Regions from separate parts of the Homo sapiens genome. Here region 1 is linked to region 2. The links come from fine-mapping of genetic effects on gene expression. A gene starts in region 2. The other region holds a variant in brackets. All regions are shown on one strand. Distances are from middle to middle.

What was found. PIP is the estimated chance that this variant, and not a neighbour inherited with it, causes the effect.
Region 1: its variant is the best candidate, but not a certain one, in a credible set for the expression of ABHD8 in lymphoblastoid cells (GTEx, PIP 0.64).

Annotation. Positions count from the first base shown.
Region 1 is chr19:17,344,326-17,346,825 of GRCh38, reverse strand. No RefSeq gene overlaps it. Among named protein-coding and RNA genes, the nearest start is that of GTPBP3, 8.0 kb to the right of the region's middle. RefSeq lists an enhancer at 1-735. The variant T/C (reference allele first, on the strand shown) is at 1,412.
Region 2 is chr19:17,301,793-17,304,803 of GRCh38, reverse strand. It overlaps ABHD8 (abhydrolase domain containing 8), which reads left to right and starts at 1,379. Exons shown (of 5, transcript NM_024527.5): 1 at 1,379-1,562. It also overlaps a transcript of MRPL34 not described here. RefSeq lists silencers at 1,257-1,806, 2,190-2,484 and an enhancer at 2,842-3,011.

The DNA.
Region 1 (2,500 bases), 42 kb before region 2:
ATTTTTGTATTTTTAGTAGAGACGGGGTTTCACTACGTTGGCCAGGCTGGTCTCCTGACCTCAGGTGATCCACCCACCTTGGCCTCCCAAAGTGCTGGGATTACAGGCGTGAGCCACCGCGCCCGGCCCTGAGGTCTCCTTCAGTTGGGTGGTCAGAAACTCTGCGGGCCTCCTTAGGCCCTTTTCGTGCCCTCTCTCTGCCGCGGATGCCTCCCAGGCTCTGTGTCCACTGAAATCAGAGTTTGTATATTCAACCACTGGAGGTGGAGATCTTTTTCTGATTCCAGAAAAGATCCTGATTCTCTTCGAGACTCAGTTTCCACCCCAGTCAGGGGAAGTTAACCATTCACATGCCACCAGGTGAATGCGGAAGGCCTAGATCCGCTGAGGGTGGGGCACCGGGAGCGCTGATGGGAGGATTGCTGGGGACCGCCTCACTTAGCGCGACGCGCCCTCTGCTGGTCGGTCCCCGCCACGTCAGGCTCCCCGAAGAATCTCAGACGAACCTCTGCCTATCAGACCCCTCCATCCATCCCTTCTCCAATGGTCTCCCTCCTCTTTCTCCTCCTTTCCTCTGCTCCAGCCACTCTGACCACCTCTGGCCGGGCGCGGTGGCTCTCGCCTGTAATCCCAACACTTTGGGAGGCTGAGGCGGACAGATCACTTGAGGTCAGGAGTTTGAGACCAACCTGGGCAACATAGCAAGATCCTGTCTCCATGAAAAAAATTTAAAAATTAGCCGGGCATGGTGGTTGTGGTCCTAGCTATTCAGGAGGCCGAGGTGGAAGGATCAACTGAGCCCAGGAGGTTGAAGATTACAGTGAGCCATGATTGTACCACTGCATTCCAGCCTGGGTGACAGAGTGAGACCCCACCCCAACCCCCCCCCAAAAAAAGGGCCAGGCATAGTAGCTCACACCTGTAATCCCAGCACCTTGGGAAGCCAAGGCAGGAAGATTGCCTGAGCCCAAAAGCTTAAAACCAGCTTGGGCAACATAGTGAGAACCCATCTCTAAAAGAAATTTAAAAATTAGCTGGGCGTGGTGGCGCATGCCTGTAGTCCTAGCTATTCAGGAGGCTGAGGTGGGAGGATCACTTGAGCCCAGAAGATGGAAGCTACAGTGAGCCATGATCGAGCCACTGCAGTCCAGCCTGGGTGAAAGGGAGAGGCCTTGTCAAAAAAAAAAAAAAAAAAAAAAAAGGTCGGGCGTGGTGGCACATGCCTGTAATCCCAGCTACTTGGGAGGCTGAGGCAGGAGAATTGCTTGAACCTGGAAGGCGGAGGTTGCAGTGAGCCACAATCACGCCACCGCACTCCAGCCTGGGCGACAGAGCAAGACCCTGTCTCAAAAAAAAAAAAAAAAAAAAAGCAAACAAACCAACAAAAAAACCTGACCATCTCACTATTCCT[T/C]GAACACACCGCGAAGTTCCTGAATCAGTGGGATATGTAATCCAGTGAAATATGTGTCAGTGGGATATGCATATGAAGGGATTTGCATATTCAGTGCCCTCTGCCTGGGGTGCCCTCCCCAGACTCCTCCATCTGACATCCTCACCATTCAGATCTCAACACTCATCACCTCTGCCAGGCAGCCCACTTTAAGTTGCCTGACTAGGTCACTTCTCCTCTTTATGAGCTTCAAAGAAGCCATCAGGCCAGGCACGGTGGCTCACACATGTGATCCCAGCACTTTGGGAGGCTGAGGTCTCAGGATCACCAGAGGCCAAGAGTTTGAGACCAGCCTGGGCAACACAGCAAGACCCCCATCTTTACTTAAAGAAAAAAAAAAAAAAGGCTGGGCACGGTGGCTCACGCCTGTAATCCCAGGCATTTGAGACCAGCCTGGCCAACATGGTGAAACCCGTCTCTACTAAAAATACAAAAATTAGCCAGGCGTGGTGGCACACGCCTATAGTCCCAGCTACTCGGGAGGCTGAGGCAGGAGAGTCGCTTGAACCTGGGAGGCAGAGGTTGCCAGTGAGCTGAGATCATGCCACTCCACCCTGGGCAAAAGAGCAAAGACTCTATCTCAAAAAAAAAAAGAGCAGCCATCAGGCCTCACTGTAATGACCTCTTTCTTGTCTCTTCTTTTCGTTGTTGTTTCGAGACAGAGTCTCGCTCTATCGCCCAGGCTGGAGTGCAGTGGCGTGATCTCTGCTCACTGCAACCTCTGCCTCCCAGGTTCAAGCAACTCTCTTGTCTCACCCTCCTGAGTTACTGGGACCACAGACGTGTGCCACCATGCTTGGCTAATGTTTGTATTTTTTGTAGAGATGGGGTTTCACCACGTTGGCCAGGCTGGTCTCAAACTCCAGGCCTCAAGTGATCTGCCCACCTTGGCTTCCAAAATTGTTGGGATTACAGGCGTGAGCCACCACGCCTGGCCTCTTGTCACTTCTTTAATGTGAACAGGGACCAAGCCTGTTGCTCCCCTCTGTGACCCCAACATCCTGCCTGCTGCACAGGAGGCCCTCAGCAAACTCAGATTTGGAGTCAAAC
Region 2 (3,011 bases):
TCTCAAAAAAAAAAGGAGTCGTCTTCTCTCAACCGCTGTCCATTCTTCTGGCCCGACTGCTTTCCCTTGACTCTCCCCCAAGTTCAAGGGCTCCTCAAGGGCCAGGGGCCTGGGGCTGTATCCCTACAAGTGCCAGCTTGGGGTTCATGCAGAGAGGTGTTTGCTAAATGAATAAACTGTATAGTCTCCCAGAAGTGCCCTTAGTGGGCAAGAGTAGGTGTCTGGACGGAATCCAGCTCTGGCAGCAAATTCCAGGGGATGTGAGTGGCCAAGCAGCAAGGAGCATTTAACCCCTCGTCCTCCGAAGCCCATCCTACCTGTAGCATCGTTTAGCAAAACATCACCACTATAATAATGCCCATAATATATGGAGCATTTGTTATATGCACGACACTATGATGAGTGCTTTACCTGCGTAGCAAACTTATGAGAGGATTAATTTCATAGAGAAATAAACGGAGGCTCAGGAAAGTGAAGTAACTTGCCCGAGGTCACACATCAGCAAAGGGCAGAGGCTGGATTTGAGACCTGAGCTCTCCTGAGGGCCTACCATGGCCCCGCCGGTACCACAGAGCTGGGATGCCTGCCTCTTGCTATCAGCCCTTCTCAGAACCATGGCAGCCATGGGTTAAATCGGCTGATTATGAAATTCAAACTCTCTAATTACCCACAGCTCCAAGACTTTCCTTGAAAGCTTTAGAGAAGCCCGTCACGATGGCTCACGCCAGTGATCTCAGCCCTTTGGGAGGCCGTAGACGAGAGGATTGCTTGATGCCCAGAGTTCGAGACCAGTCTGGGCAAGATAGCGAGACCTCGTCCCTACCAAAAGAAAAGGGGGGGGCGTAGGGGGGAGGTTAGCAAATAATGGTTCCCAGGGTTTGGAATCACACAGCCTTGGGTTCAAGTCCCAGCTTTGCTCCTTGCTTGATTTATGCTCTTGTGCCCTTTATGAGCCTCAGTTTCCCCACCGGAGATTGGAAAAAGATCTTGGAGTCTCTGCTTCTAGAATGGAAAGGTCAATACAGAGAGAAGAGTATGGGGGCCTCGTTTGGAGAGGAACAGGGCAATTGGGAGGCAGGGGCTGGGGGGCAAGGGCTTGGGAGACCCATTTGCAGAGAGAGGGCCCCGGCCGCACACTCCCAGGCGTCCCGCAGACCCTAGACTGCAACCCCCTTCTCCGCCTTGAGCCAGGCCCCATCCCTCCCCCAACCTCGGTGAACCCCCAAAAGGGGCGGGGCCGTTGCTCCCAGAGCCCGCCTCCACTACGGAATTGCCGCCTCTCATTGGGCTCCTAACTAGGCCAGGTCAGTCCGCAGCTGCGATAGGCCGAAGTGCCCGCCCGTCGGCACGTGGCTCCGCCTACTCGGGGGAGGAACTTAAAGGGCCGGCTGTTTCGGCGGCCGCGGGATGCCCCTGCGCTGACCGCCAGGGGCAGGTGCCCGCCCGCGTAGACGCACCCGGCCTGACCCCGCGCCACCATGTAAACGGCGCCAGCAGGCGGACGCTGGCTTCTCCGCCTGGGACCCCTCCGCCCCGACCCGGGCCCCGCGGCCCTCGATGAGGTGAGCGGGGAACGGGCCCCAAAAGGAGAGATCGAAGCCCCGGGGCCTCCACTTCGGAGGAGTGGTGTCCACCAACCCCGCGTTTGGGCTCGTAGGAAGCCACGGAGCCCCAGTGGGCTCGACCCCGCTGCAGGGATGACGAACACCTGGAAGGCGGGGGCCGGGGGCGGGGAAGCGGGGCTGGGGTGGCGCCTGTGCGTTGCCCTCCACAATCCGGGATTAGGGCCCCACTCGAGGTGGGGGGCATGGCCTGCTTCCCCTCCAGTATGTCTGGGGCCACTGCGGCTCAGTCTCGGGCGTGCGTTACCTTAGCGGCGCCCAACCTGGGGTAGGGGGCAGGCAGGCAGCTGGTCCCATCTCCAGGCCCTAGACACCTCGACAATGGGGGTGCACTGCTCGGGTATCCCCCCCTTAGGTTATGTAACCGCCTGTGGTTGCCATGGACACGGGGGCGGGGGTGGCCCAAGGAGTGGGATGGAGGCTTGGAGGCCCCCAGCCAGGGCCCTGCCTCTCCCATCCTCTTCGCCACCTCTGGGGACTTGTATAGCAGATCCCCAGAATCCAGGGTGCCAAGGAGGAAGTTCAGAGTCTAGCTTCCTCTCAGAGTGTCTGGGCCTCAGCTTGGCCCTCTATGAAACAGACCCCGGCTCACCCCGGTCTAGGGGAGCTGAGCAAGGCTTTCTGTGGCTCAGTCCCCATCCCCCTCTCCTAGGGCCTCACCTTTCAGGAGTCAAATTCAGAGCCAGGAGCCTCACTGGGGGCTCACCAAAGATTTGCATATTTTAGATGCCTTAGGAGGCCCTGGGGATATGTGAGTTAGTGAGTGCATACCTGGATGAGTTAGTGAGTTAGTGTATACCTGAATGAATGAGTTAGTGTATACCTGAATGGATGAGTTAGTGTATACCTGAATGAATGAGTTAGGAGGCCATAAATGGTATAAACTCCAGCTGGGGGGAGGGGGTGTCTTCCGGCTGGTCCACATTTGCCACAATGTCCCCTTCTCCAGGAACATCCCCACACAAGACGCCACCACCTTCCCTGTGGACACCCTGTGGGGTAAGCCATAGCCAAGTCTTTCTCTCTGAGGATAGACTAGGGTGACCCAGGAGGGTAACTACCACAAAGGCACTGCTCAGACAAAACATGTCAGTGCACGGTGGCTCACACCTATAATCCCAGCACTTTGGGAGGCCGAAGCAGGAGGAAAATTTGAGGTCAGGAGTTCAAGACCAGCCTGGCCAACATGGTGAAACCCCATCTCTACAAAAAATACAAAAATTAGCTAGACATGGTGGCACCTGCCTATAATCCCAGCTACTCAGGAGGCTGAGGCAAGAGAATCGCTTGAACCCAGGAGGGGGAGGTTGCAGTAAGCCGAAATCCGGCCACTGCCCTCCAGCCTGGATGACAAAGCGAGACTGTCTCAAAAACACACACACACACACA